2 linked regions of the Homo sapiens genome follow. Changing the gene in region 1 together with any one later gene gives a genetic interaction. Each region holds a gene or a part of one and is shown on either strand. Other genes may lie near its edges. The genes, in order: DNAJC16 and GBF1.

What was found.
Region 2: changes in DNAJC16 (region 1) and GBF1 together harm fitness more than expected from each alone (negative genetic interaction), as found in Homo sapiens cells (one study listed by BioGRID).

The regions. Positions count from the first base shown.
Region 1 is NC_000001.11:15,522,592-15,530,032, forward strand, and holds the start of DNAJC16 (dnaJ homolog subfamily C member 16 isoform 1 precursor), read left to right. Parts: upstream 1-4,256; 5' UTR 4,257-4,367; intron 4,368-6,496; 5' UTR 6,497-6,514; coding exon 6,515-6,681; intron 6,682-7,441. Other genes in the region: CASP9 (caspase-9), read right to left, coding at 1,478-1,609. UniProt on the Homo sapiens protein: Plays an important role in regulating the size of autophagosomes during the formation process.
Region 2 is NC_000010.11:102,367,257-102,374,531, forward strand, and holds part of GBF1 (Golgi-specific brefeldin A-resistance guanine nucleotide exchange factor 1), read left to right. Parts: intron 1-221; coding exon 222-304; intron 305-961; coding exon 962-1,198; intron 1,199-1,482; coding exon 1,483-1,576; intron 1,577-1,954; coding exon 1,955-2,131; intron 2,132-2,454; coding exon 2,455-2,519; intron 2,520-2,604; coding exon 2,605-2,728; intron 2,729-2,917; coding exon 2,918-2,989; intron 2,990-3,127; coding exon 3,128-3,222; intron 3,223-3,450; coding exon 3,451-3,604; intron 3,605-7,275. UniProt on the Homo sapiens protein: Guanine-nucleotide exchange factor (GEF) for members of the Arf family of small GTPases involved in trafficking in the early secretory pathway; its GEF activity initiates the coating of nascent vesicles via the localized generation of activated ARFs through replacement of GDP with GTP.

The sequences.
Region 1 (7,441 bases):
AAAGTCCCAGCTGCTCTAAAGGCTGAGGCAGGAAGACCACTTAAGCCCAGGAGGTCAAGGTCGCAGTGAGCCATGATCTCATCCCTGCACTCCAGGCTGGGCAAGAGTGAGACCCTGCCTCAAAATAAGTGTAAGATGTGGCAATACTGGGCCATTTGTTGATATGGCCATACTCAGCTGGAGACGGAGGGCAGTGCAAAGGCTATCCACTATGACGCCCATCCATTGGTCCTCCATGGGCATTTGAGTTTGTGATCCCCGTGAACATTCCTGAAGGCAAGGACTGTGGCCTCAAACCATTACTGTTCCCCAGTAGGGGCCACACAGAAGGCACAAAACTTATTTTATTATTAATGAATAATTACTCATATGATACTCAATTATTTAAAGACTCTTTCCCTGGGCCAGGGCACTGGCCAGGGATATCCAGCCAGCCACTCACACCTACTGCACCTCATGGTAGGAAATATCTCCTGCATCCTCACAGGCCTGTGATGAGGGTCAAATGAGACAAAGATGGGAAAGTGCTTTTAAACAAAACCTCAAATGTTTGACTTCATTATTCTCCATTCTGCATCAGGTCCCCTCATTTCCAAAACCTCTTAACAAAACATAAACTGAACACAGAAGGGGCTGGCCAAAGAGGGCAGGGTACGCTGATCCCCCGCTCTGTGCCTAGCACTACAGTTTCACATCCGTTATTTCATTTAGTCCTTATGACAGTATTATTCTTATTCCCATTTCACAGCCCAGAAACTGTGGCTCAAAGAGGGTAAGTGACTGGCCCAAGAACACGCTGCCAGGCAGCCTGATGCCAAAGTGGGTTCCCGAAACCTCTATGCTAGAAAAGTAAAAACGCACACGCCTCCTTCCTCGCAAGTATTAACGTAAATTAAAATGGAGACCAACCATGAAGAATTCCTGAGCAGACAAAACCAATCAGGTATCCTAAGTGACCTAAATCTTGCTTAAACTGCAAACATAAGCAAAATTTAACTTGGGTCATATCTGATAAATGCTTATGTTAGAGAGAAATAAAACTTAAGACCAGCCAAAAGCAGTCAATTAACAGACCTTAAAAAAAAAAGGCAATTTTGTAACTGCAAACCAATCAAATAATTTCTTTATTTTGCTTCCACATTTTCCCAATAAATACTTGCCTCTGACGTTTTGTCATTGCAACACTAAAGCTCTTTCAGTCTGATGTTCTCCAATTCATGAATTGTTTCTTATTCAAAGTTCTCAAGATGTGTCTCACATTTTTCCTTTACACAAGAAACACAAGCACTAACAGTGTACGCTGACTGAGTATGGCATGGAATCGCTTTAGCGAACACCCGACTAAGAGGTGTTTGGGATTCTTTGGCTCCGCTGAGGGGTTTGAAGCCACAGGGAAGGCTAGGCTCCCGCACAACGCCTCCTCGAGGGGCGTGGGGACCCGGCCGTGCAGCGCGGGGACAGGGGGCCGGGGGCGCACCTGGATGTCCTCGATCATATGGGGCCTGAACAGCTCGCGGCTCAGCAGGGCGTCCCAGAGCTGGTCCACCTGCAGCTCTTCCACCAGCCGCAGCCGGCACCGCCGCAGGAGCCGCCGATCCGCTTCGTCCATGGCGAGTAGCCAACTAAGACTCCAGGCCGCCTCAGTCCGCTTCCGGGCCTCGGCCGCCCGCCCCAGTCCCCAGGACCCGCCCCCGCCCCAGGGCCTGCCCCCGCGTCACGGCCCCGGGTCAGTCTTCGCTCCCCACCGCCTCCGGACGCATCTCCAAGGCCTCGCCCCGCCCCCAGGAGTCGCTCTTGCGTCACCGCCCCGCCCTCAGGACGCACCTCTGCGCCTCGCCCCGCCCCCAGGGCCAAGCCTCCCATCACCGCGCCGCCCCAGAACACGCTCCGCGTCACCGCCCCGCCCCAGAACCCGCCCCACGTCACCGCCCCGCTCCAGAATCCACCACTGCGTCCCCGCCCCAGAACCCGCCCCGTATCCCCGCACTGACCTCACGTCACCGCCCCGCCCCCGCGTTACCGTCCCGCCCGCAGGACGCATCTCCAACGCCTCGCCCCGCCCCAAGGATTCGCTCTTGCGTCACCGCCTCGCCTTCAGGACGCCTCCGCGCCTCGCCCTGTCCCCAGGGTCAATTCTGGGGTCACCGCCTGTCCCCAGAACCTGCCACCGCGTCACCGCCCACTCCCCGGGACGCATCTAGAAGGTCTCGCCCCGCCCCCAGGATTCGCTCTGCGTCATCGCCCCGCCCTCAGGACGCACCTCAGCGCCTCGCGCCGACCCCAGAATCCATTCCGCGCCACCGCCCCGCCCCCAGGATTCAACCCACGCCCCCACCCCGCCCCCAAGGTCAATCTTGCGCCACCGCCCCGCCCCCAAGGGCTAGCCTCGTGCCACCGCCCCGCCTCCAAGAGCCAATCCCCTCCCCTCGCTCCACCCTCAGAATCGTCCTTGCGTCACCGCTCAGCCTCAGACTCCAGTTCGCACTCTCGCCCCGCCCCCAAAGTCAATCCTCACCCCCAGGATCCATCCTTCTGTCACCGCCCCGCCCCAAGGCGGCACCTCCGCGACTCGCCCCGCCCCCAGGGCCCCGCCCCGCCCCCGCATCACCTCCCCACTCCGGGCGCAGGTGCCCTTTTGCAATTCTGGCACCAGTTCCTGGTCCACCGCGGGCCCTTCGCCAGAATTCACTATAGCCCCGCTTTTACAGAGATCCGGAGGGAGTCGTCACACTTCCAGCAAGAGGGAAACCATGAGTGGAGCCGTGATCTGTCCCGCCCATTCAACCTCCTCCGGGGCATGGCTTCCCCTTAGCCCCCTCCTCCACCCCAAGTAAAACCATAAGCTCCCCTCACCGCCCTTGTGCCCAGATCGCAGTTGACTGTTCCAAACTCGAGTGTCTGATCCAACCAAGCCCACCTTACACAGTCTTCCATTCCCTCTTCCCTCCCTCCCACCCTAACACCTCCCACACAGAAAAAAAAAAAAACGGCAGAAATCTAGTCCTGTAAACTCCCATCGTTCTGAACGGTTCATTTTCACATTTCAAAAATAATCGTTTCTGTTTACTGAGCATTTGCTAAGTCCCAGGCATCGTGCTAGCCACTTTTCATGCTTATTTCACTTATCCTTAACTACAATCCTGCCAGGAAAGTATTCCCACCCCCCGCCGGTTTTACAGATGTAGACCCTAGGGTTCAGGGAAACGAATGTTTAAGGTCACTTGGGTACTAAGTGGCCGAGGCAGGCAGGATTGAAACCCGAACCTGACTCTGTAAGCCACACTCTTAAGAATCCACCTTAGAATATAATCTCTTGAGCACCAAAACCTCAGCCCCATTCGTTCACTTCTACGAATATTTATTGAGCCTGTAGTCAAACACTAAGAACATGAAGGTGAACAAAACAAAATCCCTGCTTTTAGAGTTTACATTCCAGTGGAAGGATCAGGTGATAAACTATATCAATAAATAAGACATACTATGTTAGATAGTGATAAATGCAAAGAGAAAAAAATAAAAACAAGACAGGGAGATATGAAAGCTCTTTATATCCGCAAGGGATCTATCTCATTGGCTCAAAGAAAGTTTCCTTCACTTACCTGTGCCTTATCCCTCTCTCCACCCCCACCGCCCTTTCCCCGTGCTTAAGGCACAGACTGGTACATTCTTGGGTGGAGCTCGGTTTTCGGTAAACGGGATTAAAAGTCCTGGATTCTCTCAAAAAAAAAAAAGATAAGTAAACAAAAATAAAAGGAATGCTGGATTCTAGGCCTTGGGCAAATCTCTGCCCCTCTCTGGACCTCGGTCTCCCTATCAATATTGCAGGAGTTGGAGAGTTAAAGAATCCCTAAGGTCACTTCCAATCTGACGCTCTAAGGTTCTACGAATAGGGTTAAAGAGAATAGGGACCAGAGAGTGCGTCCCCATCCTAGCAACTGTTGCTAGACGAGGGCCATCTCCCGGTAGGAGCGGAAACACCTTCCTGGATCGAGGAGGTCCTTCTGGTATCCCATCATGCATAGCGACTTCGCCTCGCTAGGAGGCACGTTTTGGCCTCTTTGGTCACGATCAGCCTTTTGGCTGCAACCAAAGAGCGCGCCTCGTTTCTATAGCAACCACCCCAGGTCCACGCCTAGACGGCGAGTGGCAAGGGTCAAAATAGATTCGCCCAGTAGACGCCCTCGACCTGTTCGGTCCTCGCCTTCAGTGCGATAGACCTTTAAGCGTCACGTGACTCCCCTCGGGCTTGTCCCCTCCTCTTTCCCCTCCCCAGGCCCAGGCGAGCGCTGGTGTGGACGGGAAGCTCCCGGCCCGGCGAACTAACTGGAGCACGGAGCTGCAGCCGGTTGGGCCGGTGTACTTTCCCGGTAACTCCTTCCCGGCGTGACGCGCGGAACCGCGGACGCGGCGGGGCCAGGCCGACTCAGGGATTTCCCCTCAGTTCCTTCTCGTTTCCAGTCACTGCTGGCCCCGGGGGGAGCCGGGAGCCAACAGGGCCGGGCCCTGGGCTCTCGGAGGGCGGCGGGGGAGGGGGCTGTCTCCTGCAGGGTTGCGACCTCCGGCAGGAGCGCGAGGCGGGGCTTAGACCTGGAGCTTGTCTCTGGGAGCTTCTTCCTGGTCCTGGATATGCTGCCCAGAGAGCTGGCAGCCTACCTGTTGGGCAGGTGTTTGCTGCTCCGAGGTCGGCGCCGTCTATCTCGCATGTCAGCTAAAGAACTTCCCAGACCACCGCCACTTCGGCCCTCTAGCTGGAAGGAACTGACATGGTTAAATAAGGCAGCGATCGTACTGCATGGTAGAAATAATAGCACTAACGACCATTTGTTGACTGTTGACTCTGGGCTCAGTAAACCCTTTACATGCATTTAGTCCCCACATGATGATCCTTCAAGGTGGTAGTATTCATTCCCATTTTATGAATAAGGACGCTGATGCTTAGTAAGTTTAAATAATTTGCCCAAGGTAATAAAGTAGTGGAGAATAGATCCTAGTCTTCAACCCATATGCTTAACCAGTAGCTACATTGCCTTCACGTGTTTTCTAGGATATAATAGGTTGCCTTAACAAAGAAGAAACTGGTTTGTTTTAGGATTTTATTCAGCACGTATGCAATTTTAAACGTTGGTCATCAGATTAGTCAATTTTGTGAGGACTCCCAGGCGGCATTAAACTTGCACTTACGGAAATCCACCACTGTTATAGCTTTGCCCTTCTTCAGTAAGGTGTCACAGAAGACACTTGAACCTTAAAACTGTATTAACTTGTGAGAAATCAAGATAAATGTGTTCCTTGAAAAAAAACATTGTAGGGTATAACAGCAATCATAATTGTGGAGTATAAATATCTGCAGTTCCAGCACTACCCTGTTCATTAACCAGCCAGGATTATTTCCAAAATTCACAATGAATTAAGTCACTGTACTCACCAGAGATGGAGCTTGAAACTTTTAAAGACCACGCCTGCTATTTGGTCTTTGCCGTTAATTCTTCTTCACATGTAAAACTAAATTTTTTCTTGCCGCTTTTTCTCATCTGAGGTTTCCATTAATAATGACCATATTGGCCGGCGCGATGGCTCACGCCTGTAATCCCAACACTTTGGGAGGCCGAGGCGGGTGGATCACCTGAGGTCAGGAGTTCAAAACCAGCCTGGCCAACATGGTGAAACCCTGTCTCTACTAAAAATACAAAAAATTAGCTAGGCAGGGTGGCGCATGCCTGTAATCCCAGCTACTGGGGAGGCTGAGACAGGAGACTTGCTTGAACCTGGGAGGGGGAGGTTGCAGTGAGCTGAGATCCCATCATTGCACTCCAGCCTGGGCAACGAGTGAAACTCCGTCTCAAAAAAAAAAAACAAAAAAACACCATATTACTAATGATTAAAGAGCAGCTTCTCATTTTCTTGTTTGAATGGTGTGGTGAGAAAGAATAGAATTGAGGCATACTGCGTCTTAACTACACAGTTTTTTGAGAGTGTTTCACGTCCATGTTTGTACTTATTTAATGCCCAAGAATGCCACAACTATCTCATTTTGTAGTTTTGTACATGGTAAATCTTACAGTTTCATGAGTTTGTTTAACATGTACTCAATGAAGTATTCTTAAACCATTTATTTTATTTATTCTTATCAGAATAAATGAAATCATGTATTTGAGAGGTAGTCGTCCTGATTATCCTATTTAGGTTTTCTCTCATTTATGTATTATTTCTGCATCCCATTCATTTTCATTCATTTCTAAAGCTTTTCTAGTCAAAGTGTTCTGGAGAGTTGCTATTCTTATTACTCATCTTTTCATCTGTAATAGTTCTCATTTGTGATATTCAAAAGCAGTAGCGAGATTTTTATTTTAAGATACAGTTCAACAGCTTGACACTTTTCCTGCAAAATACCTTTTGTTGGTTTTGTTTTTCATCTATATATCTTATACCTTTACCTAAAAAGCAAGACTGTCCAGGTTTCTGCCACTGAAACTCATTGCCTCTTCAATCATTTCAGCTCTGGAAAGGAAGAGAAATGGAAGTGAGAAAGTTGAGCATTTCCTGGCAGTTCTTGATAGTTCTGGTTCTGATCCTGCAAATTCTGTCTGCGTTGGATTTTGACCCATACAGAGTCCTAGGGGTCAGCCGAACAGCCAGTCAGGCTGATATTAAAAAGGCTTATAAGAAGCTCGCCCGGGAATGGTAGGTGAAACAAAGAAATAGAGGTTTAACATAAGCTAAACAGTCTTAGCAGGGATGAAGTCTAAATTATGACTAGCTTTTATTTGTCTCTGTTTCTATGTTCAATATATATATCTGTCTAAAATATTTTACGCAGGAGAGCTAATGTTCATGTTCTATAATTGTTAGCGATAAGATCCAAAGCCTATGTTTACTCTGAAACTCCCTTTTAGGAATACTTTGGCTTAAAGAATTGCCTTAGATACTGTTAGCATATTTAATGTTAAAGTAACAAGTTTTAATTTTAAAAAAATGTATATATAGTCAATAATGGATATGCTACCCTTCCCATGATACATTATTCATAAAGTAACTTTATGAGTGTAATTGCTAAACAGGAACACTATACAACCCTATTCTCTAAATTATTAATTTCTACACTTTGAAAAAAAGTTAAGAGTAATAGCCTTTTGCCTCCAAAAAAAAAAATTCAGAAACCAAGGATAGTTGTCTCTTGATATCCATGAGGTCTTGGTTCCAGGATCCCCAGAAATACCAAAGTCATTGGATGCTCAAGTCCCTATATAAAATAGCATAGTATTTGCATATAATCTATGCACGTCCTCTCATATACTTTAAATCATCTCTAGCTTACTTATAATACCTAATACAATGTAACTGCTGTGCAAATGGTTGTTATACTGTTATTGTTTAAGGAATAATGACAAGAAAAAAGTCTGTACATGTTCAGTACAATGCAATTTTTTAAAAATATTTTTGA
Region 2 (7,275 bases), on another chromosome or scaffold:
GGAGGTAGCAGGAAGGACATAGGATTTCCAGTGGGCATGATGGATGGGGTTCTGTCCAAGGGAATCAGGAAGGGCTGGCCAACCTAGAAAAGGGACTGGGGTGGGGAAGTGGGTTTTTTCGCTTACCTTTTCCTAAGTCCTATTTACTGAAAACCCAGGAGTTCCTTAGGTGGGGCTTCAGTGTTGACACAAGGGGAAAAAACTTACTGGCCTGTCTCTAGGAGTTTCGCAAAAATCTGAAAGGTGTGAATGGAGGCAAGGACTTTGAGCAAGACATCCTGGAGGACATGTACCATGCCATCAAGTGAGTATACATAGAGAATAGTGCAGTATCTCTGTTAAGAAGAAGCACATTGCTTCCTTTCCCAGTTTTTAGAGTCATGTCAGACTGCAGTGACTCACATGCCCTGGATTTAGCCTCAGGACTTAGTTGGGCAGCCCCCTCTCTGCCAACTGTTTCTTCCTTAAAGAAGCCCAAATGATATTGGGACTCTAGTACTCTAAGCCAGGGTCCAAAGTGCTGCTCTTAAGTAGGATATCATGGCCCCATTTTCTGAACTTAAAACAGGTACATTTTCCTGTATAGATTACAAGATGCTGGCTGGTAGAGAACCCAAGATGGGCACTGGAGTGTGAGGCCCAGGTTACAGGTCAGAAATGGGCCACTTAGTTTTTTACTGTAAATCAGAAAAGGTAGAATTGTTCATTTTATCACACCTAGTAAGAATGTGTGATCTTACTATAGAACTAAAGGCCTCACTTACAGATAGGGCTTTGAGATTATGGGACACTTCCTTTCTTTCTGTCTGCTCCCACTGGTGGGTGGAAAGCAGACCACTGAGCTGCAGTTCTGATGACCTCTCATCAGTGGAGAGTGCTAGTATGGATGAACTCCTAGTCTTGGTTTGGAACTAGTCAGGTTCAAAGCAGTGCAACTGCTCCTTCCCTTACCTCCTGACAGGAATGAGGAAATTGTAATGCCTGAGGAGCAGACAGGCTTGGTTCGGGAGAACTATGTGTGGAATGTGCTGCTTCATCGAGGTGCCACCCCTGAGGGCATATTCCTGCGTGTGCCTACTGCCAGCTATGATCTTGACCTCTTCACCATGACCTGGGGCCCCACTATTGCTGCTCTCTCTTATGTCTTTGACAAAAGCCTTGAGGAGACAATCATCCAGAAAGCCATCTCAGGCTTCAGGTAGCCCAGCTTTGGCCTTGGTCTTCACCTCCCACTAGCTCTGTGAGCTAACATGGTTTTCTCCATGCCTCTCTGACTCCTACTGTTACTTCATTAGAATGGGGTTCCCCCTGAGTTTTTGGAGGGAGGCTGAAGCTTGGGTAGGCTCAGTCTTAAACAGAAACAAAATTAAAAGGTTTCTTCCTGGGACTGACTGGGGAAGAGCCCCATGCAAGCTCAGGGACTTGGAAGGGCTGCTTGGCCTTCCAGTGACTCTGTTTCTGGGATGGGGGGTAACATTACAGGAAGTGCGCCATGATCTCCGCCCACTATGGCCTCAGCGATGTGTTTGACAATCTCATCATCTCTCTATGCAAATTCACAGCTCTCAGCAGTGAGGTGAGCAGGTGCAGGAACTGTGTACTTGGAGCTCCAAAGGAGGACCTCTCTTTTAGCCATGGATCTACCCTTATCAACAGACCTGGTTGCCCTCAGCGTCTTCCCTCACTGCCCCCACTTGAATATACCAGAGCTTAGGCCATTTCTGTCTTGCACACTCTGGGATAAAACTAGTGTTACTTCATGTAATGGGGATGGGAAAGGAGATACAGGAGTGGGGAAGGCCTTAACTAGGTTAACCCACTCCCACCAGTATTATGGGGGATTGAAGCAGAGCCAACAAAAGGACCTGAGGGAACCATCATAGGCAGAGACCTAAGAGATTTTCCTTTCCAGACATTAGCTCGGCCTTAAGTCTGTTCTCTTCCTCTTTTCCAGTCTATTGAGAACCTGCCCAGTGTATTTGGAAGCAACCCTAAAGCCCATATTGCAGCCAAGACAGTATTCCATTTGGCCCATCGTCATGGTGACATCCTGCGGGAGGGCTGGAAGAATATCATGGAGGCCATGCTGCAGCTCTTCCGAGCCCAACTACTGCCCAAGGCTATGATAGAGGTAATTCTTAGTAGGAGACTAGTGAGCGATAACAAGGCAAGAGCTGCAACATTGTATGCTACCTGTACATAGAAGTAAGTGGTTGAGAGTAATGTTGGGCCTGATGCCTGCCACAGCTCACCAGGAATGCCTCAAATGTAAGACCACAGATCTTGGGGGATAGCTGTAAAAGAAGGCTGGTAGATGCCATTGCCAGTCACCAATTGGCACAATAGCATAGGGGCAGAAGACTAGAGGAGGAAATCCAGAGAACTTTGGTGGGTGGAGGCGGGCACAAATGCAAAGGACACATGGAAAGAAATTATTTTGACTTACTTTTCCAGGTAGAAGATTTCGTGGATCCCAATGGCAAGATCTCTCTACAGCGGGAAGAGACACCATCAAACCGGTAAGAGCAGACCAGAGGCTCAGGGGCTTGGGGAGGGAGAGTCAGAACTTTGGGGCTCACCAGGCCATGTGCCCTTTTTCTACAGAGGAGAGTCAACAGTGCTGAGCTTTGTGAGCTGGCTAACACTGAGTGGTCCTGAGCAGTCTAGTGTTCGGGGCCCATCCACTGAAAACCAAGAGGCCAAGAGAGTGGCCTTAGAGTGTATAAAGGTAACTGCCCATCCACCCCTGGTGAGAAAGCCTAAACACCTTCCTATTAGATGCTACTTGGTGAACTGAAGAATAAATCATCCAGGATTTGTAACCAGGGCTGACTCTGCCCTCTCCCCCTGGCTCTTGGGGACATTCTGTTCTCTTCAGCCTTTGTCAAAGACCCCCTCTCTCTTTTGCCCTCTCTAGCAATGTGACCCAGAAAAAATGATCACAGAAAGCAAGTTCCTCCAGCTGGAGTCACTACAGGAGCTCATGAAGGTAAAGGATGAAGAAAGGAAACATGGAACAACTGGCTGAATCTGGGAGGGGTGACAGGGACAGTATTATTTCTGTCAGGGCAGGGCCAGTGGTTGGCTTCTTTTCCATGCCTACTTTCCTGCTGCTGTTCCCCTTCAGGCTCTGGTCTCAGTGACACCAGATGAAGAGACATATGATGAGGAAGATGCTGCTTTCTGCCTAGAGATGCTGCTAAGGATTGTGTTGGAGAACAGGTAAGATGAGCGTAGTCTTTAGGCAGACCCCATGCTGGGCTTGTGCCAAAGGGATGGAAGCCATCTTGCTGAGTGGGCTCTGGGGAACTGTAGGCAGCAGGGGAGAAGCTTACTCATCATACCTGTCTACTTAGGGTATAATACCAATGAGTCCTGAAAGGCCTAGGGGACCTGTTGCCCAGTGGCCCCTCTGGCTGAGACTATCTTCATTCCTTTATGTCTACACAGGGATCGTGTGGGCTGTGTGTGGCAGACTGTTCGAGACCATCTATACCACCTCTGTGTTCAGGCACAAGATTTCTGCTTCCTTGTGGAGCGGGCAGTGGTGGGGTTGCTACGCCTGGCCATTCGGCTTCTCCGGAGAGAAGAGATCAGTGCTCAGGTAAGCAGAATGCATCTTGGAGAGTGGGCAGGTATGCAAGGGATTAAGGCCACAGTTGTCAATTATGAATATGGCCTGAGACAGAGAGTACATTTAGTGCCCCATAGCATGAGTCCAGTGACCAACCACAGGGCTGGTGCAGTCTAGCGGGTGGTACTGGGAGTGAGCCTGGAATGGCCTCAGGCATGGAGCTTGTGTTTGGCACCTCAGCCTCCTATGAATCTGCTTTGTAGGACTGGCCTGCTACTGCCTTATAATAGTCTCAGCCCTATACCTGGTTTCCTGTCATGCTTATGACCCTCTTGAGATCTCTTTGCTTAACTACAAAAAACAACAAGCATAGAACTAATAAGTGGATTCAACAAGGTCACAGGATGTGAGATCAATACACAAAAAGTAATTATATCTCTACATGCTAACAATGAACAATATGGAAACTGAAATTTAAAATACAATACCATTTACAAGGGTTCCAAATAAAGTGAAATACTTAATATATAGCTGACAAAACATGTATAAGATTTGTATGATGAAAACTACAAAACTACAAAATAAATTGAAGAAGATGTAAATAAATGAAGAGGCATACTATGTTCATGGATTGGAAGGCTCAACATAGTAACTTTGTCACTTCTCCCCAAATTGATCTGTAAATTCAACATAACTCCTATAAAAATCCCAGAAAGGTTCTTGTAGACATAGGTAAGCTTATTCTAAAATTTAGATGGAAAGGCACAAGCTCTAGAATAGCTAGAAAGAATAAAGTGGAAAGAATCACTCTCTCTGGGCCGGTTGCTGTGGTTCATGCCTGTAATCTCAGCACTGCGGGAGGCCACAGCGGGCAGATCACTTGAGGTCAGGAGTTCAAGGCCAGCCTGGCCAACATGGTGAAACCCCATCTCTACTAAAAACACAAAAATTAGCAGGGTGTGGTGGCACACACCTGTAATCCTAGCTACTTGGGAGGCTGAGGCAGGAGAATCGCTTGAACTCAAGGCGGAGGTTGCAGTGAGCTGAGATCGCGCCACTGCACTCCAGCTGGGTGACAGAGTGAGATTCTGTCTCAAAAAAAAAAAAAAAGAATCACTCTGGTATTAAGACTTACTGTCCACTTTGGGGGGCTGAGGCGGGTGGATCACGAGGTCAGGAGATCAAGACCAGCCTGACTAACGTGGTGAAACCCCGTCTCTACTAAAAATAGAAAAATTAGCTGGGCGTGATGGTGAGCGCCTGATTGCTACTCGGGAGGCTGAGGCAGGAGAATCGCTTGAACCTGGGAGGCGGAGGTTGCAGTGAGCCAAGATTGCGCCACTGCACTCCAGCCTGGGCAACACAGCGAGACTCCATCTCAAAAAAAAAAAAAGACTTACTCTCGGCTGGACACAGTGGCTCACGTCTGTAATCCCAACACTTTGTGAGGCCAAGGCAGGCAATCACCTGAGGTTGGGAGTTCGAGACCAGCCTGACCAACATGGAGAAACCTCGTCTCTACTAAAAATACAGAATTAGCCAGGCATGGTGGGGCATGCCTGTAATCCCAGCTACTCAGGAGGCTGAGGCAGGAGAATCACTTGAACCTGGGAGGCAGAGGTTGTAGTAAGCCAAGATCACACCATTGCACTCCAGCCTGGACAGCGAAACTCTGTCTCAAAAAAAAGACTTACTGTATAGCTATAGTAGTCAAGATTATGTGGTGTCGATGGAGGGACAGACACGTAGATCAATGGAAAAGAATAGAGAGACCAGAAATAAGCTCAACACAAATATGTTCAGTGGATTTTTTGACCAAGATGTAAGAACAATTCAGTGGAGGAGGAATAGCCTTTTCAATAAGTGGTGGAGTGATTAAAATCCATAGGAGGAAAAACCAAATGAACCTTGACCTAAACCTCATACCTTACAGGAAAATTAACTCCAATGGATCATAGATTTAAATGTAAAGCTATAAAAACTTTAGAAACAGGAGAAAATCTTCAGGATCTAGAGCTAAGCAAAGAATTTTTAGCATGTTTGGCAGTCCTGTGGATCTGTCTCTTGCCTCAACACTGTCTGGATGGAACAGATCCGGGGGAGACTCTCTTTCAAAAAAAGTAATAATTTTTAGACTTGACATTAAAAGCACAATCTAGAAAAGGAAAAATTGATAAGTTGGGCTACATTAATATTTTTAAAAGTTTTGTTCTATGAGAGCCTATGTGAAGAGGATGAAAAGACAAGCTGTAGACGAGGAGGAAATATTTGCAAATCACATATTTGAAGAAAGGTATCTGTAATATAAAAACTCTCAAAACACAACAGTGATAAAACAATCCAATTATTAATAGAAAATGGACAAAACATAGGAACAGATGTTTCACCAAAGAACACATACAGATGGCAGATAGGCACATGAAATGAAGATAGCATCATTAACCATCAGAGTACTGCAAACTAAAACCACAATGAGGCTCACACCTGTAAGCCCAGCACTTTGGGAGGCTGAGGTGGGTGGATCACCTGAGGTCAGGAGTTTGAGCCCAGCCTGGCCAACATGGTGAAACCATGTCTCTACCAATAAATACAAAAATTAGCTGGGCGTGGTCACACACACCTGTAGTCTCACCTACTGAGGAGATTGAGGTGGGAGGATCGCTTGAACGCAGGAGGTTGCAGTGAGCTGAGATCGTGCCACTGCACTCCTGCCTGGGTGACAGAGCAAGACTCCAAAAAATAAAAACACAATGAGACATCACTACCCACTTTTCAGAATGGCTGAAATAAAAAGTAGTGACAATACCAAATGCTGAAAGGACGTGGAGAAACTGGGTCATTCATATATTGCTGGGTGGGAATGTAAAATGGTACAGCTACTCTGCTGGCAGTTTCTTATAAAATGAAACATATAATTACCATACAACCCAGCAATTGCACCCTTGGACATTTATCCCAGAAAAGTGAAAGCTTACTTTCTCATAAAAACCTGTACATGAATGTTTATAGAAGCCTTAGTTGTAATAGCCAAAAACTGGAATCGGCCCAGATGACTTTCAATAGGTGAATAAACTGTGGTACATACACACCATGGAATACTATTCAGCAATTTAAAGCAACAGACATCTCCAGGGAACTATGCTGAGTGAAAGAAAAGCCAATCTAAAAAGGTTATGTAATATATAATTCCACTTATATAACATTTTTGAAATGACAGAACTTTAGAATTTGAAGACAGGCTGGGCGCAGTGGCTCACACCTGTAATCCCAGCACTTTGGGAAACTGAGGCTGGTGAATCACTTGAGGTCAGGAGTTCGAGACCAGCCTGGCCAACATGGTGAAACCCCATCTCTACTAAAAATACAAAAATTAGCCAGGCGTGGTGGCTCGCACCTGTAATCCCATCTACTTGGGAGGCTGAGGCAGGAGAATCACTTGAACATGGGAAGCAGAGGTTGCAGTGAGCTGAGATCCTGCCTGCACTCTAGCCTGGGCAACAGAGTAAGACTCCATCTCAAAAAAAAAAAGAATTTGAAGACAGATTGCTAAGGATTAGGGATGGGGGCAGGAAGGAGGAGGTGGGTGTGGTTATAAAAGGGCAACATGAGCTGGGCATGGTGGTGCATGCCTGTAGTTCCAGCTACTCTGGAGGCTGAGACAGGAGGATCACTTGCGCCCAGGAGTTTGAGGCTGCTGTGAG